3 separate regions of the Homo sapiens genome follow, and all the other regions are linked to region 2. The links come from fine-mapping of genetic effects on gene expression. A gene starts in region 2. Each other region holds a variant in brackets. All regions are shown on one strand. Distances are between the middles of the regions.

Region 1 (10,406 bases), 350 kb before region 2:
AAAGGTAATGTGCCTTCTTCCCTCACTTCCAACCCTTATATGTGCTTCAGATTAATCATATTTTCTGGAATAATTGCTTAGAAAGGAGCAAAGCTTCCCTCTCTTTGGTTATCTCATTCTCTTCTTTTTCTTTGAGACAGAGTCCCGCTGTGTTGCCCTGGCTGGAGTGCAGTGGCGCCATCTCAGCTCACTGCAACCTCCACCTCTCGGGTTCAAGCAATTCTCCTGCGTCAGCCTCCTGAGTAGCTGGGACTACAGGCACGTGCCACCATGCCCGGCTAATTTTTCGTATTTTTAGTAGAGACGGGGTTTCACCGTGTTAGCCAGGGTGGTCTCGATCTCCTGTCCTCGTGATCCACCCACCTTGGCCTCCCAAAGTGCTGGGATTACAGGTGTGAGCCACCGCACCCAGCCTTCATTCTCTTTTTAAAATAATCCTTTTGGCCAGGTGCGGTGGCTCACACCTGTAATCTCAGCACTTTGGGAGGCTAAGGCAGTTGGATCACGAGGTCAGGAATTTGAGACCAGCCTAGCCAATATGGTGAAACCCCGTCTCTACTAAAAATACAAAAATTAACTGGGCATGGTGGCCCACGCCTGTAGTCCCAGCTACCTGGGAGGCTGAGGCAGGAGAATCACTTGAACCTGGGAGGCGGAGGTTGCAGTGAGCTGAGATTGCACCACTGCACTCTAGCCTGGGCGACAGAGCAAGACTCCATCTCAAAAATAAATAAACAAATAAATAAAATAAAGCTTTTTTCCTGAATATGTTCTCATTGTAAAACACTGCAAAAAAGAGGAAAGCATATGGAATAAAATAAATTTAAATTATTTGTAATCCTACCACCCAAACCTCTGGTAAAATACTGCTGTCTTTTTCCTATACATTTTTACATCATTAAAATTAGAGACGGGCTGGGCACGGTGGCTCACACCTATAATCCCAACACTTTGGGAGGCTGAGTTGGGCGGATCACTTGAGTCCAGGAGTTTGAGACCAGCCTGGGTGACAGAATGAGACCCTGTCAAAGAGTATTTACAACCCTGTATCTGTTTTCCTCAACTTTATGACATAGCCTTTCCCATGTAACTAAAAACTTTGGCTGGGTGCAGTGGCTCACACCTATAATCCCAGCACTTTGGAAGGCCGAGGTGGGAGGCCAGGAGTTCGAGAGCAGTCTGGGAAACATAGTGAGACTCTGTCTCTACAAAAACAATAAGAAAATTAGCTGGGCTTGGTGGTGCGCATCCGTAGCCCCAGCTACTCAGGAAGCTGAGGCGAGAGGATTCCTTGAGCCCAGGAATTCGAGGATTTGTGCTCCTGATGCTGCACTCCAACCTAGGTGACAGAGTGAAACCCTGTCTCTAAAAAAAAAAAAAAAAAAACTTCGTCAACATGATTTAATATTGTGAGAAGATAATGGATGTAAATTCTGTATATGCAAAATCCTGCTGTATTGGTAAGGAAGCTTTTAGTAACAATTCTTATGATGAGGGTGGATGCATTTTCTTTCTCTTAGGGCAAATACAGACCAACTCTTATGCTAAATATCTAGAGTTAGTATCAAGTGTCTCCCCTTTTGAGTATAACCGAGGCAAGAGTTTCTGCCTGTCATTGTTTCATCTTAGCTTTTCCTAGAGCCTCTACTAAAGTGTTGAGGTAGCTGACCTTCTAGTTTGAACTTGGGAACTTGGACTACTGTAGATTTCAATGCCGATCGTATGTTGCTTACTGCTACATTTTCAGTCTGAAAGACCTCTGCCATCTTCCTTTTCCCTTTGAAGTGTGTTTGAAAGGGAAGTGCTGTTACCACAAACGCCTGTAGTTCCTAGAAATCTAATGTGAAGTTAATGCTCTGAGGTGACCACATTCAAAATGTTCTGCCCTCCAGGCAATTGATGGGCTGGTCTAAAAATTTTGGGGAGGGGCTGGGCATGGTGGCTCACACCTGTAATCCCAGCACTTTGGGAAGCTGAGGCCAGGAGTTCAAGACCAGCCTGCCCAACATGATGAAACCTCATCTCTACTAAAAATACAAAAATTAGCCGGGCATGATGCT[G/A]GGCACCTGTAATCCCAGCTACTCCAGAGACTGAGGCAGGAGAATCGCTTGAACCTGGGAGGTGGAGGTTGCAGTGAGCCAAGATTGCACCATTGCACTCCAGCCTGGGCAACGAGAGTGAGACTTTATCTCAAAAAAAATTTTTTTTTAAGTTTATAGTTTCAAATTAGTTTCTCATTTCAGGTTTGAATCAATATACAAAAGCATAAAACTAAACCCTACAATAACCATAGACATAGTTATTTTTCGCAAAAATGCCCATCTACAACACCATAGAATAGAGTGGATAACTCCTATGGCAGATTGAACTGATTCTCAAACCATTTGATAGGTACCCATCTTGGAAATAGTTTCTCCCAGTATTCTCTCTGCATATGGGAACTGTTCTGTGTTCTAATCAGGTTTCAGCTCCTAAACTTCATGAAAATACAGTCTGTGCTGGTTTGGTTTTTTTGTATATTTGTTAAATGTTTGTTTATAATCTTATGCTTAGAATTTTCAGGGGCCTCTCCCTTGTTAATCTCAAACTTCTGCGTCTTCTGTGGCATTCTCCTCAGTAGTAGTCCCCCTTCATAATAAGTTTTAATGCCAGTGAATTGAAACCATGGGGTTCATGTTCCTTTTTAAAAAAAGCCAGTCAGCCTGAAGAATACCATCTGAGTCCAGAGTGTGTAACAGCTGGAAGAAAGAGAGCAGGCCTATGGCCAACATGCCCTAAAAACGCTTTTCTGTGGACAGTAGATTCAAATCACCTGAGATCTTATTAGAAATGTACGTTCCTTTTTTTTTTTTTTTCCTGGAGACGGACTCTGTCGCCCAGGTTGGAGTGCAGTGGCATGATCTTGGCTCACTGCAACCTCTGCCTCATGAGTTCAAGTGATTCTTCTGTGTCAGCCTCCAGAGTAGCTGGGACTACAGGTGTGTGCCACCACGCCCGGCTAATTTTTGTATTTTTAGTAGAGATGGAGTTTCACCATGCTGACCAGGCTGGTCTGGAACTCCTGACCTCAGGTGATCCCCCCGACCTCGGCCTCCCAAGGTGCTGGGATTACAGGTGTGAGCCACTGCGCGCGGCCAGAAATGCACAATCTCGAACCATACCCCAAACCTATCAAATCAGAATCTCTGGGATAGGAATCCAAGAATCTGAGTTTTAACAAGTCCTTCAGGTAATTCCAGGGCACACTAATGAAGCCATACCCTAGAAATCCTTGCACACGTGAGAATAACCAGCTGTAAATGTTTATGAAGTGAAAAGCAGCATTACCAAACCCAGCTATTAGAGGAAAGTGGCTGACTGAGCAAGCCGGCTGAATCAGTATCAGCTCCTGATGGCAGAGTGCCCTTACTCACGGAGGAAAGATAATGTAGAGTTGAAATGGGACTTGGAAAGCTTGATGCACAGAGAAGTTAGGGTCACACTGTTCGAGGGCTCTGAAAGGAACCTTCTTCAGGTGGTTTTCATGGTTGAGAGTAGTGGTTAACTTCACTATCACCTCAACAGAAAATTCCCACCATGGGCCTGAAAGTCAGGGCTTCAGTCTTATTGATAAATAAGTATGTAATAATTATTTCAGATTTTCATCCAAGGTTATAAATGTTTGTACGTAGGTGCATTGAGATGCAAACTTGCAGTTAAACATTAAAACCTAGAATTCAATCTTGTTCTGTTTGAAAGGACTTGGGGTGTTCAGAGCAATTCTCTTAAGGGTAAGTCCCAGCTGACTTGCATATTTTTCCTTTTCTAGATGGCGGACTGTGGGGGACTGCCCCAGGTAGTTCAGGTAAGGAGAATTTTTTTTAAACACCCATTTAATTCTGCTTCTCTGTCTATGCAAAAATTAATGCCCTCTTGTTTTATCCCCCCAGCCTGGGAAGCTCACCGAGGCCTTCAAGTACTTTTTGCAGGGAATGGGCTACAGTGAGTAGTACACAACTTTCTATCTAGCAACGATTTAGGAATATTGGGAGCCAGTTTCACATCTGGGAGCCCACAATTCTTGAGATATAACCTCTGTGGCAGCTAGCCTTAAGCAAAGTAGAAACTGAAATGTTTATGGAACATTCATTTGTCCGTATTTGTAAGCTAACACTCAGCACTTACTTTCATCAGGCAATATATATTCTTTTTTTTTTTTTTTTTTTTTTGAGACAGAGTCTCACTCTGTTGCCAGGCTGGAGTGCAGTGGTGTGATCTCAGCTCACTGCAACCTCCGCCTCCTGGGTTCAAGCGATTCTCCTGCCTCAGCCTCCCAAGTAGCTGGGACTACAGGCATGTGCCACCACACCCGAATAATTTTTGTATTTTTAGGAGAGACGGAGATTCACCATGTTGGCCAGGATGGTCTTGATCTCTTGACCTCATGATCTGCCTGCCTTGGCCTCCCAAAGTGCTGGGATTACATGCGTGAGCTACCGTGCCCAACCTATATATTCTTAATCTAAGAAGTCATTCTGTTATTAGTGCCAATTTATAGAAGAAGAAACTGAGGCTCAAAGAGACTAAGCACATTGCCAAGGGTAAAAATTCAGCTGCAGGGCCATGATTCAAACCCTGACAGTCTGACTCCAGAGCCCACATTTTGAACCCCTGCAGCTTAGGCTGTCCTAGGTGTGAATCTGAAATTATGATTTGCATTTAAACTCAGCTGGTTAATAACTCCTGACCTAGAGAAATGAAATGGAGACTCCAGGAGAAAAGGGCAGTATCCTTGGTAAAGTCTCCTCCACCCCAGGGGACGAACTTGGAGAGTGTTTTAGAGCAAGTCCAAGGGTGTGTCCATATCATATGCCATTGTCCTGGTCTCTTGTATTGTAAGACCTCTGAGCTTTTTCATGGTCACAGAATTATCTACACTTGCTCCTTTCTTGGAGTTTTTAGAAAAACTCTTTCACCCAGGTACAGAGCTCTTTACCCAGTAGGGTGATTTTTCTCCTGTCTTTGGTATTAGTGTGGATAATGGTCATTGGCGAGCTGTCTGGTCAGCTGCTCTGGGCAGCTGGGCCCTGGGTGCAGCCCTGTACCTGCCAGGCAGACCATGTATGTCTTGTCTCAAGTGGCTGTGTCATCCTTGCCTGTGAGCCGCTACCAACCGAGCCCACACCCACAGCCCTGTGGCTCACTGGGAGGAGCAGGAGGCCCTCTCCTAGTCCATTCTTATCCTTTTCCTATGAAATAGCTGATCTTCCAGCCCACTTCTGATCCAAAGCAAGATGACTGTTTATAGCAGAGGGGAAAACAATTGCCTTTGTCTAGTTGAGGAAAGTAACATTTGAGATGTTATTGAAGTATCTGTCAGCCTCACCTCCTCTCTGGGACCTTAAAATAAAATTTTATCCCTGGCTTAGAGTATTCTGTCAGTGTCTACCAGGCAGCTGAGGTTGCCACTTGGCACTCTGGGGTCACTAACCTGCCTTTTCCTGTGTCCATCCTGCTTCCAGTCCCGTATGTGCAGCTCAGTCACCTGAGCACCGAGTCAGGTACCTTCCTCTGTGCTGGCCCTGCCCCGCCTTCCAGTCTCTCCTGGCTGCACTGGCTGCCTGCAGCATGTCCGCGGTCTTCCTATGCAGTGAGAGCCCGATAGAACGTGGCTCAGTACGCCCCAAGAGATTTAGCCTACAGGTCCAGCCCTGGTCCCCCAGGAGGAGGAAAGGATCTGGTTGTAAGGGGCAGGCCTCCTCTTGTCATCCTAAATCCAGGGTCACAGCAGCAGCTGAAACTTGATAGGCAGGGCCCATCTTCCACCACCACCTACTGATCCTTGAATTAACCTCCAGACACAGGAATCCAAGGGCAGCCTTGGCTCTAAATAGGAGGGTCAGAGCCTGTGCCCAGAGAACTCTGCAGATGATAGCACCTTTTGACCCCAGCATTGAAATGACAGCTAGGGGAGTGGCTGCTGCCCAGGACGATAGGCAGGGAGGCTATGCCAGGTAAGGCCCAGTCCCAGCCAAGCTGGAAGGACCTTAGAGTCAAGCAGTGGCAGAACAGGAGTCTGAGTTAAACACCTGCTTCTCTGTCCCTGGCAACCTGTACCTCATCCCTGTGTTGAGGTCAGCTCCAAGCCAATCTGCCCTCCCCTTCACCTGCACCATCCTACAAATCTCCTCCCTGGTAGCAAGGTAGCCTGTGGACACGGATGGTAGTCTCGTTGTATCGGGCTTGCACTGTGTTTGTGAAACACCTTCATACTTGTGTGTGTGTCTTTCTTTTCTTTTGGTTTAGTCTTGCATGCACTGTAGGTTTTGGTTACCTGTTTGGGTTCCCAAAGCCTCCATTCTGTCACTGTCTGAATGGTGTGGGCATAGTTAAGAGGCTATACTCTGGATTTAGGGTTTCCCCTTGTTCTGCGGTGACTACAATCAGCTGAGATTCCAACCAGATCTAAAGGATTAAAGTGGCCTCACATATCGCCACTCACCTAGAGCAAATGATACAAAATGGGGATGGCTATATCTTGTCCTGGGTGTCATGGTAAATGAGTCGGAAAAGCTAAACATAAAGACTTTGATGAGACTCCTAGGTTAGCTGGGCTTAACCGGGGCTTCATCTTCTAGTCCCCTTGGTTCTCTGTTACAGTACCATCTGCCAGCATGACTCGGCTCGCCCGATCACGAACCCACTCAACCTCGAGTAGCCTCGGCTCTGGAGAAAGTCCCTTCAGCCGGTCTGTCACCAGCAATCAGTCAGATGGAACTCAAGAATCCTGTGAGTCCCCTGATGTCCTGGACAGACACCAGACCATGGAGGTGTCCTGCTAAGCAGATGCTCCTCCCCTGGACCATTGCAAGTCCATCCTTCAAATGACCACTCCATAATATAACATTTCATCCAGTAAACTGGCCTCTACTATCTTTAACTCATGCATGGCCACTGAACCTCTCTCTAGTAGCCTGGATTTATCATTCTCTCTGCCTGCCCACCCCCTTTTTTGTATAGCCCAAGAACCACTTCCATGCCATACTGTAACATTCCAACATCTTTAGCTGATCAGATCTCTCCATATCCTCTCTTGCCAGCTTTTTCCCGTGCTCCCCCAACTATGTATCAGATAAGATTCTTTGATCCCGACTCTGTGTGTGCGAGCACGCGTGTCTGTGTTTGTGTGTGCATAGTTCTGTGGTTTTAGACACGCTTTCTTGTAGTGCTTCTGCAAAAAACAAAAAAGGGACTTATTTTGCATTCTCAATGGTGTTTTTAAGGGAATTAGGCAGAACAGATTTCTAGGTTGGGTAGGCCACTGCATTCTCTTTTGTTTGCAAATTGGTCAACAAAATTTGCAAAGTGATTTCAGGAGAGAGCAGCTTTGAGGAATGTGGAAAATCATAATTGCCGTCTGGACCATTGATTGATTGTGACCAGTAGCAGAAGGGTGCCTGTTACATAGAGAGGCTCCTTCTGTCCAAATGAATTTCTGTATACTCTTCTATAAATAAAAGGGAGGAATATATTCTGCTGGAAGCCCATGAACCATCGCTGAGGTTCTGATACAACATAGAGTTTTTTCCAAGGAGTGAATGTGGTTTAATTACTGGACTCTCTTAGCACAGGAAGGTGGAAACAAAATGCCAGGCCTCTGCTCTGAAGAGCAAAACTGCTGTCGCTGCAGTATCTGATACCAGACATCCACATATCCACAAGAAGTGCCTCTTAGGTCTGTGACAGAGAGTGTGTCTCCATTCCTCAGTTCCCAGAAAGGGGAGAGGTTTGGCCTAAAAAGCATGTAGATGGGGGAGAAATGGGTGGGGGGAGAGGAACAGCCATTAACACAGTATCATGTTTAACAAGTATAGCCTTGATTTCAGTAGATGTAATGGAAGCCAAATTAAATTGATACAGAACCCATTTCTCAGAGTCTTTTTTTTTTTTTGAGACAGAGTCTCGCTGTTACCCAGGCTGGAGTGCAATGGCGCAAACTTGGCTCACTGCAACCTCTGCCCCCTGGGTTCAAGCGATTCTCCTGCCTCAGCCTCCCGAGTAGCTGAGACTACAGGCACCTGCCACCATACCCAGCTAAGTTATGTATTTTTAGTAGAGATGGAGTTTCACCATGTTGGCCAGGCTGGTCTCAAACTCCTGACCTCAGGTGATCCACCTGCCTCAGCCTCCCAAAGTGCTGGGATTACAGGCATGAGTCATTGCTCCCAGCCATTAGAAAGATTGTTAATCCTATGAACTCCCTTTTGTAGGAGAGAAAGGGCCAATCTGTAGGGGTAGCCCTGTCCAGGTAAAGTTGTTTTCAGCCTCATGTCTACTGTTAGGTGAGGGAGTCACAGCCAGACAGAGAGTATTGCTGGAGGGTGAGAGAATTGTGGAGACCAACTACCACATAGCAAGAGCCCAGCTCTTGGGAGCATTGAGATGTAAGCTCAGGGTTACACAGTTCCAAATCTTGGGAAGGGGCTTTTCAGACAGACTGTTTGCTTTCTGCTGAGATAAGGAATGCATCACTCTGCCAGAGTATGACTTTTTACAGATTATTAAATAAAGCTGCATATGTCTCATTGTTACCTGATTGCTGGTGTTATTTCTTTCAAGCCATTCACTGGGGTTCAGGGCAGGACCGAGTTGCTGTATGCTGGTTCTGTGTTGCCATTTTCACATGTGATTGCTTATCCACCAAGCGACACTGTCCATTTATAGGAGGAAATGAAGACTGATGATAAATCATTTGCCCAAGGTCATGCAGCCAATAAGTCCAGCCAGGATCAAATCCCAGGGAATTATGCAGAATTCTATCTGATGTGTCTGTATTTCCCTCAAGCCAAAAATCGTGAGAAGCCTGACAGTGTTGTTTGTGATGGAGGAGGAGAAGCTGAGGTCTTGAGAAGGTGGTCCACGTCACAGCTCCACCACCTGTGTGGGATTGCTGGGTTCCACCTCTCATTTTAATAATCTGCAACCACTTGTCTTCTAAGAGACCAGCTTGTGTTTCTCCAGAAATGGCTATATTTGTACCCATCAAGAATAATTTCAGACCGAGTGCAGTGGCTCACGCCTGTAATCCCAACACTCTGGGAGGCCAAGGTGGGCGGATCACCTGAGGTCAGGAGTTAAAGACCAGCCTGGCCAACATGGTGAAACCCTGTTTCTACTAAAAATACAAAAATTAGCCAGGCATGGTGGTATGTGCCTGTAATCCCAGCTACTTGGAAGGCTGAGGCAGGAGAATCACTTGAACCCGGGAGGTGGAGTTTGCAGTGAGCCAAGATCACACCACTGCACTCTAGCCTGGGCTACAGAGCGAGACTGTCTCAAAAAAAAAAAAAAAAAAAAAAGCCAGGCATGGTGGCTCACGCCTGTAATCCCAGCACTTTGGGAGGCCAAGGCGGGCGGATCACTGGAGGTCAGGAGTTCGAGACCAGCCTGACCAATGTGATAAAACCCTGTCTCTACTAAAAATACAAAAAAAAAAAAAAAAATTAGTCGAGCGTGGTGGCATGCACCTGTAATCCCGCTACTCGGGAGGCTGAGACAGGAGAATCGCTTGAACCCAGGAGGTGGAGATTGCAGTGAGCCAAGATTGCACCATTGCATTCCAGCCTGGGTAACAAGAGTAAAACTCCGTCTCCAGAAAAAAAAAAAAAAAAAAAAAAAAAGAATAATTTCAGAAGACCACCATCTCAGATGAGTTTTCAGTAACCCGGGGCAAGTGCCAGCAAAAGTGCATGTGGATTGCTACATCTGTGACAGGCACTCGTAAAAAATGACATGAACCACCGGGCGCGGTGGCTCACGCCAGTAATCCCAGCACTTTGGGAGGCTGAGGTGGGCAGATCACGAGGTCGGGAGATCGAGACCATCCTGGCTAACACAGTGAAACCCCATCTCTACTAAAAATACAAAAAATTCGTCGGGCGTGGTGGTGGGCACCTGTAGTCCTAGCTACTCAGGAGGCTGAGGCAGGAGAATGGCGTGAACCCGGGAGGCGGAGCTAGCAGAGAGCGGAGATAGCGCTACTGCACTCCAGCCTGTGCGACAGAGAAAGACTCTTGTCTCAAAAAAAAAAAAAAAAAAGACATGCCCATTCTGGCAGAGGAGTTGAAACAAATGCATATGAACAGATAAAGATTACCAGGCTGAAGCCTTACAATGCAGGCCAATGCTCCACAGAATGCTGACATGGGAAGGAACTGATCTGATGGCCTCAGTTGCCTTTTTTTTTGTTTTTTGTTTGGTTATGTTTTGTTCTGAGATGGAGTCTCGCTCTGTCGCCCAGGCTGGAGTGCAGTGGCATGATATCCACTCACTGCAACCTCCTCCTCCTAGGTTCAAGCAATTCTCCTGTCTCAGCCTTCTGAGTAGCTGGGACTACAAGCATGTGCCACCACGCCCAGCTAATTTTT
Region 2 (10,656 bases):
GTGATAATCATAATAGGGTGTGAGGGAGGCTGAAAGAGAGTCCGGACATCGGTGCTCACTAACAGAGGGCTGAGCAGTGCACATGGCCTGGGAGATGGTCTAAAATGCTTTGTTGAAGGAATGAATGAATGAAAAGAAATGCTAGCCAGTGATACAGTTATTATTATTATTATCATCGTCAACATCAGTAGGGATCCCCAAGCCTGGTTTTGCAACCAGCCCTGGTGAGGGGTGTAGCAAAATTCTCCAAACAAAATGTGCTTCCATTCATTTTGGGTTTTTGAAAAGGCCACGTCAGACAGCTCGGTAGGGAGGAGGCGGCGTTGCGAAACCCAGCACAGAAGGATCCTGGGCCCCACTCCTCGGCTCAGGAAATAATGTGTGATCTGCAAGTGAGAAGCCCCTAAACGCTGCCCTCCCTGCAAGGACCCAGTGAGAGGGGCGCCTCGGCTGAGGGTCCACCCCCCCCACCCTCCGAGTGACCTTGGGCAGCCACCCAACCACTCTGAGCCTCAGTTTCCTCATCTGTCAAATGCAGACAATATCCCTTTTCATTCCTAACCCTGGCTGTGGCTAGAAGATGGGGGGATGAAATGGGTTCTGCAAACTGTAGAGTACTGCACGTGCTGCACACCCCTAAAGGCTTCAGTCCTGGCCTGGAGGAGTTGCCAGGAGACGCTGTGGAGGGGATATAGGAACAGAACAGGCAACCCTCTCCCCCATAGGTCACAATGAAAGAAAATCTAGTCATGTGAGTCACAAAGCATCCCCCCATATTCCGATAAAGTAGGAAGTGGGCTTGTCTTTGGTGCAACACACAGGACTCCTCGGTGACAGCTTTTCTCAAAGATGCCCAGTGAGTTTGCTCTCCAGCACCCTCACTCCCTTAACCAACAGGGTCATCTGTTAGAAGAAACTGCCAAGCCTCGCCAGCCCCACGCTGATGCCAGCCCTGGGAGCTTACACACAAAAGCTGTCCTTCAAAGCCACTACAGCAAACCCAGTGGCTTGCTCTGGATCCAAACCCTGGCACCTCCACCTCACCAGCTGTGCAGCCTTGGAGACCTTACTAATAAACTAAACTAATGCTCAGTTTCCTTGTCCAGAAAATGGGAGGACAGCCCACCAGATGCCCCAAGATGCAGGGCTCCCAGGATCACAGACTTCGGACAGTGGAAGGCAGAAGGTCCCTCAGAGATCATCAGGTCCAAGTCTTCACTTTATCAAGGGAGCCCAGAGAGGGGACACGCCTCATCCAAAGAAACACAGCAAATTCGCAACAGGGCTCCTAGAAGAGTGGATGCCGACCATGACTGCACCCTACTCCCTCCACCACCAGCCTCCCTGTGGCCCACTCAGGAGTGGCCACCTCCTCTTAGAAGGACACATAACCCTCAGCATCCCCAAGCTCAACCAGCATGTGGCTGCCTTCCTGCCTTTATCCATGCAATTCTTTTCTTTTCTTTCTTTCTTTCTTTCTTTCTTTCTTTCTTTCTTTCTTTCTTTCTTTCTTTCTTTCTTTTTTTTTTTTTGTAGAGACAGGGTCTCACTATGTTGCCTAGACTAGTCTCAAACTCCTGGACTCAAGGAATCCTCCCACCTTGGCCTCCCAAAGTGCTGGGATTACAAGCATGGGCCACTGTGCTTGTCCATGCAGTTCTTGCAGCCAGCAGTGTCCTTCCCCACTATTCTCCATCTACCCAAATCCCCAAATCCTCCAAAACCCTGCTCAGCGCATGTCCTTTATGAAGCACTTCCAGTGGTTGGACAGCACCAGTCTCCATCACTAGGAAGCACCTGGCAGGATGGCTACAGTTTACAGAGTGGGGTCCTCACAGGTTTGACTCTGTGTCCCCAAGCCTGGCACAGGGCTGGACACTGAGTGGGCCTCAGGAAGCACTAGTAGCCCAAAGAACGGACAGAGGACTAGGAAATGGAAGAGTGAACAGGCCAGTGACCTGGCGAGTGAAGGAAGGGCTGAACAGGTAAACAGGTGATGATGTGAGCAAATGAATGGCCACAGGGGGAAATGCCTGGCCAGGGGCACACCTCTAAAGATGCCAGGTCTGCCCCAGCATGGCCCCTCTCCCTCTTGTAGAGACTTTGGGGTCCCACAGACCTGCTGGGACTTTAGGGGCTACAGGCCTGTAACTCCCACAGATCCTGGCTAAATGCCTCTGGGTATGCAGACCCAGCTGGAGGCCAGGAACGCACATGGACAGTCATGTTGGCAATGGCCTGGCCAAGTCTCCCCCCATTCCCCAGAGCCCAGCCCTCCACTCAGAATGGACCAGGTCGTCAAAAGTCAAAAGAAATGGATGAGTGCACACGTTGAGCCAAGACATCTTCTCAGCACCAGAGGAATGGCGTGAAGAGACAGGCACGACCCTGCCCTTCTCCACACCAGCCACACCCAGAGACATCCAAGAAGGATGGGCACGGGGTAATGAAGCAGAGGCCCACGGGGCTGGGCGGGTGGTGACAGTGACACAGCCTGGCCTGGGCATCGAGGAAGGCTTTCTTTTGGAAGCGATGCTTAAGCTTGGGTGATGAGCAGTAGTGAAACAGGCACGTGGGAGAAGGGGGCTGGGGATGTTCAGGCAGAGGAGCCAGCATGTGTGAAGACCCTGAAGCTGGAGGGAACGTGGCCTGTTCCAGGAACTGAAGGCCCGCCAGGGGGACCCGAGCCAAAGAGGGAGGGGGTGGGGAGCAAGAGGTGGCTAGAAAGTAGCTAGTTGGGGGAGGGGGAGGTTGGGTTTCATCCTGGGAGCCATGACATTTATTGAGTACCTACTGTGTACTTTCTATAAAAAAAAACCCTGCATTCAAGATTTTATTAATTCACATTTCAGAATGTTTAAATGAAAGTGTTCAAATGCACTGATGTTAGCAAATGCGATTTTCTAATGCTTTTCTGAATGAATGAATACCCATCACGGAAGTATAGGAGGGTAGGGACCACCTGCTTCTGTCACATACGGTGCCCGGGATACAGTTCCTCAGAGCCTCCCCATCATGTGAAACTGCTGGCATTTACGAAGCCTGTGGCTCACAAACCACACAAGAACCTAATGAGATGTCAGTGGGTGCCCCGATACATCCGATACGTCAGCGTCTCCCGAAAGCTCCAAAGCACACATTCTCTCCTAGTTCCCAAGTGCTGCACAGCCTTCCTTCAAAAACACCAACTCAGCTGCCAGGCAGCTTCACGCCCGGGGCACAGCCCTCAGACCTGCAGTTCCATCTCAAGGCTGGCACCCGGGGTTCCACATAACCCAGCCATCAGGTCCCGTCCAGCTCACAGTTTCTCTTCAGCATGGACACTGTCTCCAATGCCTGACACAGGCTGCCTCCCCCAACAAAAAAGAGGCTCCTGGAGGTGGGGACCCTGTCAGCCATTGCACTCCCCAGCGCCCAGCACAGGCCTCACCAGGCCTCTGGCAGGTGAGTACGGGGTCGCCATGGACACCACACACGGGCACACTCCCAGAAGTTGAGTTGCGCTGTCCCAGCTCCTGGAGGACACAGGATCCCTGGCCTACCCCTGCCACAGCGGGAGACAGGCACTCTAGCCAGCCCCACGTGCACAGCCAGCGTCTCCGGAGCTGCTGGGAACACACTCGGAGTCTGCTGCTGACTGGCCCCGACAGCCGGCTCTAGGGCCTGGTGGTGGCTCCAACACTCCAGCCACCCATCGGCCAGGCCAGGGCACCAGCTCTGCAGCCCCACCCTGGGACCAGGCAGCCCAGTGCCCTCTGGCAGAGAAGGCAAGAGAGAGGTGGCCACCAAGGAGGGACAGAAACAGGGCTCTTCCAACAGGCATTCTAGGAGATGGTCCTGTACAACTGATTCCCACCACTTCCAGCTGGCGGAAAACAGCCCCCTCCCACAAGTGAGGGCTCAGAGGCAGAGAGAGCCAGGACTCCCCCCTCCCTACTGGGGACTAGGCTTGGAGAGGAGGTGCAGTGGAGGTAGAGGCAGGGCAGGCCAGTCCCCCGGGGGCTGGAACTGCAGCCCCCTCCCGCTATGTCATTTCCACTTCCAGGCAGGTGGGGGTGCCAGGAACCCTCTCCCCATCAGCGCTGCCCTCCAAGCTTAGGGCTTCCCATTCTCAGGGCACCTCCTCTACCCACCGCTCCCGGCACAACTGGCCTTTGCCAATCACAACCCCTCCCCCATTTCATTTTTTCCCACATCAACAGTCTCTGACAGCCCCTCTCTGCAACACAGGCAGCGGAGGAAGAAGGGGAGAAGGGCCGGAGGGATGGAGGGATGGAGGGATGGAGGGATGAAGGGATGGAGGGGGATCGGAGCGGCAGGTTCGGCCAAAAGAGACCAAGGGCCATTACACGTCCAGGTAGCACCTGTCCCCTTCCAGCAGGCCCAGCACATCTGGACCCAGCTGGTCCCCGCGGCCACCTGGTCCATCCGCCACCAGCTCTGAACGCGAACCCCTGTCTCCGCGGGGCGCCGCACGTGGGGGCCTCCGGTAGCCATGTGAGTGCCCCCCCAGCCCAGGTGCCCGGGTCAGCCCAGCCCCTCCCAGGGACGCAAACAGGGAGGGGGCGCTATGCAGCGCGGGAGGGGGGTGCTGCCCCCGCCCCCTCCCCAGATGCCAGGTCAGGGAAAGAGCTCGGGAAGGGGGGAGCCGGCGGCTCCCGGGTCTACCGAGACGGGATCCGAGGCAGCTGGGTTGAATGGAGGAATGCCCGGGCCGGCATAGCCCTGCTCTCCCAAGCGCCAAGGTTGGCCGGGCACGGGAGGGGTCCGCCTGACCCCCAGGCCGCCCTGCGGATTAGGGGGCGGGCCTGAGGAGGGGGCTTCCAGGCTTTGGCAGCCGCTTGATATGGGGTACGGGGGAGTCCGCGGGAAAAAGAGCCGGAATGGGGATCCGGTCCCGGACAGGGGTTCCGGGCCCCGGTGCCGCCGCCCCCGATTTGAGGGTCCGGGGAGACATGGATGGGGCGATCCCAACCGGAGAAGGCGCTTCCCAGCCGCACAGCCGGCCCCTCGGACCCGGGATCGGAAGACAGAACTGGCAGGGGAGGGGGCTTTTCTGCGCCAGCGCCGTCCCCCGGTTCAGGGAGGTCTGTCGGGGAGGAGACCAGATCGGGGGGTCTAGCCGAGGGACGGAGCGCGCCGGCCCGGGAAGGGGGTAGGAGCCGCCGCGCGCCACCCCCGCGCCCTCACCTGCGCCGGGCGCCTCGGCCGCCTCCGGCCCGCTCTGCCGTTCCGCTGCGCCGCCGCCGCCTCTCGGGTCCGCTCGCAGGTCCGCGCGCCTAGGCCCCGGCCCCCGCCCCGGCTCCGGCCCGCGGGCGCCCCATGCCTCTCCTCCGGCCGGCGCGGCGCCCCAGATGCGGCTGCGGGAGGAGGAGCCGTGCGGCCCCGGCTCCCCGAGAGCGGCGGGGAGGGGGCGGGGAGAGGGGAGAGGAGCGCGGGGGAGGGGGCCGTGCGGCTGCGCCCAAAACCAGGCGCGGATCGGGCCGCGGGCGCGGGGCTGGGGGGGCCTTGGGGGGGCCCGCGCCGTTCCTGGCGCCCCACCCCCACCCACGCCCCCGCAACCCGGGGGAAGGGGGAGGGTCTCCGCAGCGGGCGACCGCTCTGTCGCGATCCGGAAGAGCGCTTGGAAATCCGGGGCCGCCAGTCCAGAGAGGGCAGGCTACTGGAACAAGGTCACACAGCGCGGGCCGCGGTGGCACGGGAGCCTGGAACCCCAGGCTACGGGGCGGGCCGGCAGGAACCTGTGTTGACCATCGCCGCCCCGTGGAGGAGGGAAACTGAGGCCCAGAGAGAACGAGACTGGCCCGGGTCACACCGCGCCAGTCAGGAACCACCCCACCCCCGAGAACTTGGGGCTCCTGCCTCTAGGAATGGGTGCCCCCTCCCGGTGACCTGCTTCCGCAGAACCCTCTCCCAGGTGTCTTCTAGCCTCTGGCTGAACGGGGGTTAAATGCAGTCTCTGGAGTGGGATGAACCTGAACTGCGTACCAGCCCTGCCTCTCCTGGCTCTGTGGTTACAGACAAAAGACTGTCCCTCTCTGAGCCCCATTCCTCCACCTGTAAAATGGGGACACCACGAGTCTCTATCCCCAACTTGGGTGAGAAACCAAAGAGATCATGGGTATGAGCTCTTTACCGGTGCCTGGCATTCAGTAGGTGTCAAATGAATGTGCCTGCCTTCTCTGGCTCCCACACACAGCCATCTCCAGAGAATGCCTCTGAATGCAGAAGGGTCAGAATGGCGTGAAAGGGTGGCCTGCAAGGCTCCTCACAGCCCTGTTCCAGTCTCCTCCACCACCCACCCACCCTGCTCACATCCCCAACCCAGTGATGACTGTTTCAGTGCCCAGCCTCTGCCTTTCCCTGTGCCTGCCATGCCCTCCCACCTCTCTACCTGACAAACTCCTACTCATCCATCAAGGCCCAGAGCAATCTGTTTCGTACCCCAGCTTCTCACACTCCCTACTAGTCTACCCATATTTCCTTTCTCCAGAACACATTCCCCTTTCCCCAGTGTCTGGTCTGGGTTTGTCTCTATCTTCTCTGGCTCTAACAACTGGGGTGAGAGGAGGTCACTCAGAGGAGATGACACCCTGAGGCCCAGCGCTGCCCAAGAGGGCTTCCTGGAAGAGGCAGGGCTTCAGTAAAGCCTGGATGGAAAGGTGAGTTTAACACCTGCATGCAGCAGGCAAAGAGGTGGCATGTTTGGGCAGGGTGTCAGCAAGGAGGAGAGTGGGCTCCCTGGAGCAGTGGGAAGATCTTGGCGAATGAGCTGGGAGCCAGCGAGAGCCAGGGGCTGGACAGCGACCTGGCGGTATATATATGATCAGGTTGAAGATGAGCAGGCTTTGCCCTCGAGAACACCTCACATGGGGGCCCGGGAGGCTTGCACAAGGATGCTCATAGCAGCATCGTTTGTAATAGTGAAAAGCTGGACACAGCCTAAATGTCCATCATTTGGAAACTGGATAAATAGCAACACATTCAGACAATGGAAAACTGTCTGTGATCCACAATCCTCAAAATAGGTGATTGCAAGCTTATGCATTGTGAGGCTGAATCTCAAAAACACACTGTTGATTCAGTTTGTGAAAATCCAGGGTTGTACACTTACAATTTGTGTGCTCTTTGTATGAATGCTATACTTCAATACAATTTTTAAAATAAAAATATATATTGTTGGATGGAAAAAGCAAGTTGCAGATGGAAAACATAATTTCATGCCAGATACATAAAGTTTGAAAACACACAACACAATACCATATATTGTTTAGCGACACATACATATGTAATACAAGTGTAAAAGCATGCATGGGAGTGATAGACAGCAAATTCAAGAGAGTAGTGACCGTGAGGGAGAGAGGGAAGGGAATGTTGTAGTAAGGGCTTTAAATATACTTGAAGTGGTTTATGTCTTAAGCCGGGGTGGTGAGCACATGGGTGTTTGTCATGTTGTTCTCTAGACTTTTTTGTGGACATAAAATATTCCTATTGTAATACTTTTTTGTTTTGTAGAAAGTCAGGTGGTGCCTGGGAAGGCAAGGGGGTGCCATTGCTGGTTCTTGAGCAGGAGTGTGACATGGCAGTGGACTGGAACAGGCAAGACTAGAGAAAGGAATGTCAAGGAGGCTAGTGTGATGGCACAGGGGAGAGATGCAAAGCCCTGAGTGGGAACAAGGATGGGGTTATGGGGAGGAGGGGAAGGAAGGGCAAGTTTTAGAGGAACAAGCATTGGGCACGCTTAGGCAAGGGTCACAAACCCAAATGCCCACAGGGCTTGGACAGGTTGTTTAAGCAAGTTGTGAGCCTGGAGTTGTGGGGACTGTGACACATGGTCCAGCAGGGGCAGCCCCTACTCAGCACTAGCTGATTTTGCCATCTAGGGAAGGAGACAGTGGAGCCATATCTTATTTTTTCAAGAGAAGCTAGCAGTTAAGATTTTCTGAAATGTAAAACTTCAGAAAATCCCTGAAAATAATGGCAACTAGAGTGAAAAAATTGTTAACTCTATGCAAACCAAGCCATATAGGTTCACAGTCTCTCCAGTGAGGAAGAGACTTCAGGAGAAGAATGAAGGGACAATGACACCGAGTTTTCCTGCCTGTGAGGCTGAGGAGGCTCACAACCTAAGCAGCAATCAGAGAGGGCTTCCTGGAAGAACTGACACAGGGTAGCGAAAGGGGAAGGCATTTCTGATGGAAAGAACAGTATATGCAAAGGCAGGATTGAGTAGAGTGAGCCTAAAAGAAAAAAGAGCAAAAAACAGGAACAGGCGTTTCACAGAAGGGGAAACATATGGCCAGTAAACATACGAGGAGGTGCCTGACCTCGTTAGTCATGGGGGAAATGTAAGTCAAGACCATGATGAGATGCCACTGCACGCCCAGTCGACTGGCAACAATGAGAACGTGGGACAATACCAAGAGCTGGGGAAGCTCTAGCTCAGTGGCAGCTCCGAAGCTGCGGCCGAGAGGGTGATCTGGGCCACCCACTGCGACCCAGCACTTCCACTCCTGATGTGTATGCCCAAGAGAAACCCATGCAGAGGTACACTCGGCCAGTGCTTCTCAAACGTGAATAAGCCAGTGAATCCCCCAGGGGTCTTGTTAAAATGCAGATTCAGTTCTGGCGGGGCTAGGGCAGGGCCCCAGACTCTGCATTTCTAACAAGTTTCCAGGTGATGCCCGGGCTGAGGATGCCCAGACTGCATTTTGCAGAGCTTTAGGATTTACGCGCAGGAACAGCCACACAGCACTGTTTGCAATAGCAGAAGACCAGAAGACAGCCTGACTGTCCATCGACGGGAGAATAAAAAAAGAAATAAATAATGGTATAGTCACATACAGCCTTCAGAACAAATAAATCATGATTACATACAGCAACATGGCCACATGCTCATCAACAGCATTGAGCTAAAAAGAAAAGACAAGACTATATACAGTATGGCACTTTTTAACATAAAATTAATAAACAAGTAAAAACAAACTACATATTAATTAGGTATGCATGCATGTAATAACACTAAAAACAAGGAAACTAGGGGAGGATAAACTCAAAATTCAGAATCTTAGTGACCTCCAGCAGAGAGCTGGGGGATGGGATGGGGTGCAGCACAGAGGCAGATGTCAGATACTGATTCTGTTCTAGTTCTTGGGGTGAGCAGTGGCTCAAGGTGCATATGTTAGATTATGCTTTCTACTATCTTGTATTATATACACTGTAGGACTTGATGCACCAATGCTGAAGGCATGTCATGAACCAAGGACTCAGTTTAACTCACTTGTGTGTATCTGAAGTATGTATTTTTAAAAAGAGAGAGAGAAACTCATAGAGACAAAGACAGAAAAAGAGATGGAGAGGTCCACAGAGATGCAGTGAAAGTGGAATATAAACCAGGTCTGTAATTTGATAATGATTAAATCCGGATAATGACCATATCTAGCTAATGATGACATTGAGCTTGTACCAAACCAGTCTTGGCCAAACCCCATGACTCAGGTACAAGCTCTGCAGTTTCTCCTGAAGACAACAAGCTGTTTCACACCTCAGCCTTTACCTGAAATGCCTCTTCTCCCATTGTGTAGTCACCTTTCAAAATTCAACTCGAATGTCACCTATTCTGGGGAAATCACCCCTGACTTCTATGTCTCATTCTATGTCTCATTCCTGGTTTTATACCCCCAAAACACTTTATGATGACAAAGACACACCACGTCTCAAAGCAAATGCTGTTGGTGCCCATCTTGAATTCTGCTGCAGCCTTGGTGGACAGCTCCTGAACTCTGGTCTGCTGCAAGCACCCACCAGGTCTCTCCACTTTTCTGCCTGATGGCATTTTCTGAAGTTGCAAGAGCTTGTCCCATCCAAGCACAGGACGGCTTGGAAATGCAGGAGAGTAAGGCCCCCAGCAGAACCTTCAGTCCCTTGGGGAAAAGAGTCACAGAGGAAATGCTGCAGCCTCCGAGCCTTCAGGGAGACAGTCTCAGGCACGCTTTCCACTGTTCTTCAGAACGTCCCCAGCAAGATGGAGCTCCAGTGGCCCACAGTGGTGCCCTGCTGGCAAATGCCCATCTGACTGACTTTCCCTCCTCCTCTGCCTCCCTCCTGCAGACTAGGATCACCTCTCAGATAAACTACCTGCACTCAAGTGCCTGTTTCAGGGTCCACTTAGGGGGAACCCCCGCTTAGGCACACCTGTTACTTCCTCCTCTCCCACAAGACTGGAAGTAGCTCCTTGGGGTTCAGGCCACATTAAATTAATATCAAAGCATGGTATTTGAGACCTGCACAGTTATACCTGTAATCCCAGTGTTTTGGGAGGCTGAGGCAGGAGGACTGCTTGAGGCCAGGAGTCCAGGGCCAGCCTGGGCAACATGGCGAGACCCCATCCCTACAAAATTAAAAAGTTAGCTGGGTGTGGTGGAGCATGCCTGTAGTCCCAGCTACTTGGGAGGCTGAGGTGGGAGAATCACTTGAGCCTAGGAGGTCAAGGCTGCAGTGAGCCGTGTTTGTACCACTGCACTCTAGCCTGGGTGACTGAGGGAGACCCTGCCTCAAAAAAATTTAAAAAGGCAGCATTTGACAGTCTGGGTTCATACCGTGTGCTGCTTGCATCATATGAACTTGGCCAGGCTCAGCCAAAACAAGCAGAAGATT
Region 3 (5,000 bases), 280 kb before region 2:
TCTGGTCCTGTCTTTTCTCCTAACCTAGCTAACTGCAGCTGCATCTATTCCACAGGTGACTCAAAGACAGCACCAGGCTGTCGGGCTGGAAGGCTCATAGGCAGGGCAGAGCCAGAAGCTTCTGTGGCCCTTCTCTCCCATTCCATTCCAGCCAGGAGGGGCCCTGGCTCTGGGGTCCTTATTTGCCCCTCTTCACCACTATGGTGCTCCAATGCACACACATACCAACAGGCTTCAGTGGACGCTGGTTGAGCTGAATCCTGACTAGAGCTGTGGGAAAACCCTAAAGAGAGGAAGGGCTTAGCAGGGTGTGGTGGCATGTGCCTGTAGTCTCAGCTACTCAGGAGGCTGAGAGAACTGCTTGAACCCACAAGGCAGAGGTTGCGGTGAGTCAAAATTGCGCCACTGCACTCCAGCCTGCGCGACAAAGCAAGACTCCATCTCAAAAAAAAAAAAAAAAAAAAAAAAAAAAGAAGGAAGGGCTCAACAGCTAGGTGGGATGAAGGAAGGGAACAAACTTACTCAAACACCTTTGATAGCAGTATCATGCCAGCCACCTCACTTGCATTATGTTTAATCTGCATACAAGCCTGGAGGGTAGAGGGCAGTGTCCCCAAAGTACTAGAGAGAACTGAGCTCAATGAGAAGAAAGCTCTTGTCCAGTCACACATCTTCCCAGTGCAGAGCTGGGATTTAAAACCAGGCCTCCTGGCTTTAGGGCCTCCACTGCTTTGCTGTGCTTTTTTTTTTTTTTTTTAAAGACAGGGTCTCACTCTGTCACCCAGGCTGGAGTGCAGTGGTGGAATCACAGTTCACTGTAGCCTTGACCTCCTGGGTTTAGGTAATTCTCCCACCTCAGCCTCCCGAGTAGCTGGGACCACAGACATGTGCCACCATGCCCAGGTACTTTTTTTTTGGTATTTTTTGTAGAGATGGGGTTTCCCCATGTTGGCCAGGCTGGTGTCAAACTCCTGAACTCAAATGATCTGCTCACCTCAGCCTCCCAAAGTGTTGGGATTACAGGTGTGAGCCACCACGCCTGGCCTCAGGCACTATTCACATTTCATATCTAATTATTCATTCAATCTCAGCCTATCACACAGGTTATATGATGATCTCCCTTGAAGAAACAGATCGGAGAGGTTCAGAAACTTGTTGAAGGTCACAAGTGCAAAAGCTGGGTTTGATCCAGACAGCCTGGTTCTGGGCAGCCACCCCACTGCCAGCTGAAGAGTGAGAGGGAGTCTTCCTTGCACAGGAGCAGTGCCTGTGTCCTTCTCTCCCTCCCTCCCACAGCTGCCTCCTCCCATACCTGTGCTGCAGGAGTACACTGCCCCTCTCCACCTCAGCCCTGGATGCAGGGGAAAAATGGGCAGGTCACAGTGACCTGGGTCAAGCAAAGTAAGGAGTGTTGTTGAGCAGGCAGCCTCATGGAGGGCAGTCTGGGCATTTCTCAGCATCTGTGTGGGCACCTAGCCCCTAAAGGCACTTCCCACTTTGGCTGAGGGTTCAAGAACAGAAAAACACCCCTCCACACACTCCCCCACAAGACTGTCCTGTCCAGATCACTTGGCAGCCTAGCATCTGTCTGTTTTGTCTTCTTAGCCCAGAAAAATGCACAGCTGAGGGGCTGGGCAAGGCAACGCGGGGGGACTGAGTGGCTGCCAGTGCCCCTTCTGCAGCCCTTCCAGCTGCCCAGCCTGTGCCTAAGTCAGGAAAAGAACCTGTGACTTGTCTCCACTCAAGGTCCTTGGGGAGATGGTAGGAAGAAGGTCAAAGTGAACTCTGTGATGTATATGGCAAAACACAGGCTGGGAACCGGAAAGCCGGTCTCTACCATAAAACAGGGCTCTATCTGAGAGGCTGCTGAGGAACAAGG[G/A]AGGAATCACTGTGGCAAATGGGGGTGGGAGGAACACCAGGAGGCTGACAAAGGCTGTGATGCTGGGAGCAGCAGCTAATGAATGCAGGCAGAAACCCTCTCATTTTTGTGTCAAGGAAGCAAAGGCACTGAGGCGCCTTTCCCAAACATCATGGTACCACCATTCACACTGAGACTACCATATCCAGGTGCTCTTGAAGGCAGCTCTCTGTATTAGAATCACCTTAGGGGAGATTTTTTTTTTTGGGGGGGGGGAAATGGAGTCTCACTTCTTTGCCCAGGCTGGAGTGCAATGGTGCGATCTCAGTTCACTGCAACCTCCGCCTCTCGGGTTCAAGCAGTTCTCCTGCCTCAGCCTCCCAAGTACCTGGGATTACAGGCACACGACAACATGCCCAAGTAATTTTTGTATTTTTAATAGAGACAGGGTTTCACCGTGTTGGCCAGGCTGGTCTCAAACTCCTGACCTCAAGTGATCTGCCCGCTTTGGCCTCCCAAAGTGCTGGGATTACAGGCAGAGCAACCACACCCAGCCTGGGAGAGATTTTTAAAAACTGTTAGTGATTTCCCCCTCTGCTTTATTGATCTAGTGGGGGTGAGGGGTGGAGTTGGCAATGTGTTTTCAGACCAGCTACCCAGAAAGTCTGGCCGCCCAGGCTTAGGAACCAATGGTTTAGCCTACTGGTTACTTGTCCTTGCAGGCCAAGCCCTTTATTTAAGCCAAAAAGCTTACACAGAAGTTCAAAAAACATACACACAGATGAAAGGCCTTGAGATGGGGAAAAATAGAAGTTGCCTGTGGGAGGAATCAGAGGGCAGCTAGCTTTGGAGCCAGAGGAGAGCAGCTCCTACATCCCTGGCTGCCCTGGGGGCTAGGCCAGGACACTCCTCCCCCACAGCTGACCACTACAGCCTCTGCACCAGGTTCCTTTCTCACCCAACAGCCCTCGCCAGGGGGACTGCTGCCCCTGCCCCGGTATGGGCTTTGGGAAGGCTTCCCTCAGGAAACTGCATATGAAAGGAGTCCTGACAGCCAGGAAGTAATGGGAAGGTACCCATTCTACCACTGTATACCCAGCACAGAGTCCCGGGCCTGGCACGTGGTATATCCCCAACCATTGTTACAGTAAAGGATTGGGGCCCAGAACCCTGCCAGGTAGCCACAGATCTAGTCCAACCAATAAATTGGGCTTAGAGGATGTCGAAGGGACCTGTGAAAATCCTTTACAAACTACTTTTTTCCCTAACCCTCCCAACTGCCTAGCCCCAGGCAAGTACCAGCAAACCAGTTAGTTGAGTCATTGACTTGCTAATGAATCGCTCCTGGGAGGGTTAAAGGAGACAATCAAAAGAGATGTCCCCAGGGAGAGATAAAACAAGCTTGGCAAAATGTTGATACTTGTTCAAGCCGAGTGACTGGTGCTGGTGGTTGATTATTATATTCTCTTACTTTTGTGGAGTTTTTTTTTTTTTTTTTTTTTTTAAAGACAGAGTCCCGTTCTGTAGACCAGGCTGGAGTGCAGTGGCATGATCTTGGCTCCCTGCAACCTCCACCACCCCCGGGTTCAAGTGATTCTCCTGCTTCAGCCTCCCGAATAGCTGGGACTATTTTTAGTAGAGACGGGGTTTCACCACATTGGTCAGACTGGTCTACAACTCCTGGCCTCAAGTGATACACCCGCTTCAGCCTCCCAAAGTGTTGGGATTACAGGCGTGAGACACTGTGCCTAGCTTTTTTCTCTTTTTTTTTGAGATGGAGTTTCACTCTTGTTGCCCAGGCTGGAGTGCAATGGCAGGATCTCGCTCACGGCAATCTCCACCTCCTAGGTTCAAAAGTGATTCTCCTGCCTCAGCCTCCTGAGTAGCTGGGAGTACAAGCATGCGCCACCATGCCCAGCTAATTGTCTATTTTTTAGTAGAGATGGGGTTTCTCCGTGTTGGTCAGGCTGGTCCCAAACTTCCAACCCCAGGTGATCCGTTTGCCTCGGCCTCCCAAAGTGCTGGAATTATAGGTGTGAGCCACTGTGCCCAGCCTGCGTTCAGCTTTTATAGATATTCTTAAATGTCCTTAATGGAAAATGAAATTTAAAAAATTAAATACAGGAGGCCGGGAGCAGTGGCTCACGCCTGTAATCCCAGCACTTTGGGAGGCTGAAGTGAGACCACCTGAGGTCGGGAGTTCGAGACCAGCCTGGCCAAAATGGTGAAACCCTGTCTTTACTAAAACTACAAAAATTAGCTCAGCCTGGTGGCAGGTGCCTGTAATCCCAGCTACTCGGGAGGCTGGGGCAGGAGAATTGCTTGAACCTGGGCAGCAGAAGTTGCAGTGAACTGAGATTGCGCCACTGCACTCCAGCCTGGGCGACAGAGTGACTCCGTCTCAAAAAAAAAAAAAATTAATTAATAAATACAGGAAAAAATGATGCTCCCAGGCTTTAGGCTATTTTTCATGATTAGGAGCCATTACATTTCCTTACTTCTGAGGTCCTGCCTGTTGACCCTTCCACCACTTTATAGCCCTTTTCTGCCACTTCAACATTATTTACTGAGCACCTACCTACCAGATACCAAGCACTATGCTACACTAGGGCTGTAACTGTGAACACTAGGTCAGTGCTCTCCACACCTCTAGAATTTGGTGCAGTCTAAAAGCAATTACAGTTTAGTGTCCCAGTGCTGTGACCTCATCTATCTGCTGTGAGAGCATACAGCTCCTTTAGGGACTGGGAGCCTCCTGGTCAGGGGTGGGAGGAAAATGGTCTGGGGAGGTGGATCAATGTAGTGGGAATGTAGGGGACCAGGGTTGAGGTTCAAGATGTAGACACGGGCCGGTGATGTCATTAGGCTGGCAAAAGCCATTGAATTTTTTTTTCTTTTTTTTTGAGATGGACTCTTGCTCTGTTGCCCAGGCAGGAGTGCAATGGTGCAATCACAACTCACTACAACCTCTGCCTCCCGAGTTCAAGCAATTCTCTTGCCTCAGCCTCCTAAGTAGCTGGGATTACAGGTACCTGCAACCACGCCCAGCTAGTTTTTTTTTCTTTTCTTTTTTGAGACAGAGTCTCAGTCTGTTGCCCCGGCTGGAGTGCGGTGGCTCAGTCTCGGCTCATTCCAACTTCCG

The links. PIP is the estimated chance that this variant, and not a neighbour inherited with it, causes the effect. A credible set is the group of variants that fine-mapping cannot tell apart.
Region 1: its variant is the best candidate, but not a certain one, in a credible set for the expression of DLGAP4 in whole blood (INTERVAL, PIP 0.52).
Region 3: its variant is the best candidate, but not a certain one, in a credible set for the expression of DLGAP4 in whole blood (INTERVAL, PIP 0.59).

Annotation. Positions count from the first base shown.
Region 1 is chr20:36,649,935-36,660,340 of GRCh38, reverse strand. NDRG3 (NDRG family member 3) reads left to right here. Exons shown (of 16, transcript NM_032013.4): 13 at 1-4; 14 at 3,809-3,844; 15 at 3,930-3,981; 16 at 6,640-8,570. The coding sequence ends at 6,821. Among named protein-coding and RNA genes, the nearest start is that of SLA2, 8.9 kb to the right of the region's middle. The variant G/A (reference allele first, on the strand shown) is at 2,061.
Region 2 is chr20:36,301,047-36,311,702 of GRCh38, reverse strand. It overlaps DLGAP4 (DLG associated protein 4), which reads right to left and starts at 5,364. Exons shown (of 13, transcript NM_001365621.2): 1 at 5,191-5,364.
Region 3 is chr20:36,583,828-36,588,827 of GRCh38, reverse strand. All of the region lies in intron 2 of TGIF2 (TGFB induced factor homeobox 2), which reads right to left. All of the region lies in intron 2 of TGIF2-RAB5IF (TGIF2-RAB5IF readthrough), which reads right to left. Among named protein-coding and RNA genes, the nearest start is that of TGIF2-RAB5IF, 12 kb to the right of the region's middle. RefSeq lists an enhancer at 2,361-3,350. The variant G/A (reference allele first, on the strand shown) is at 1,880.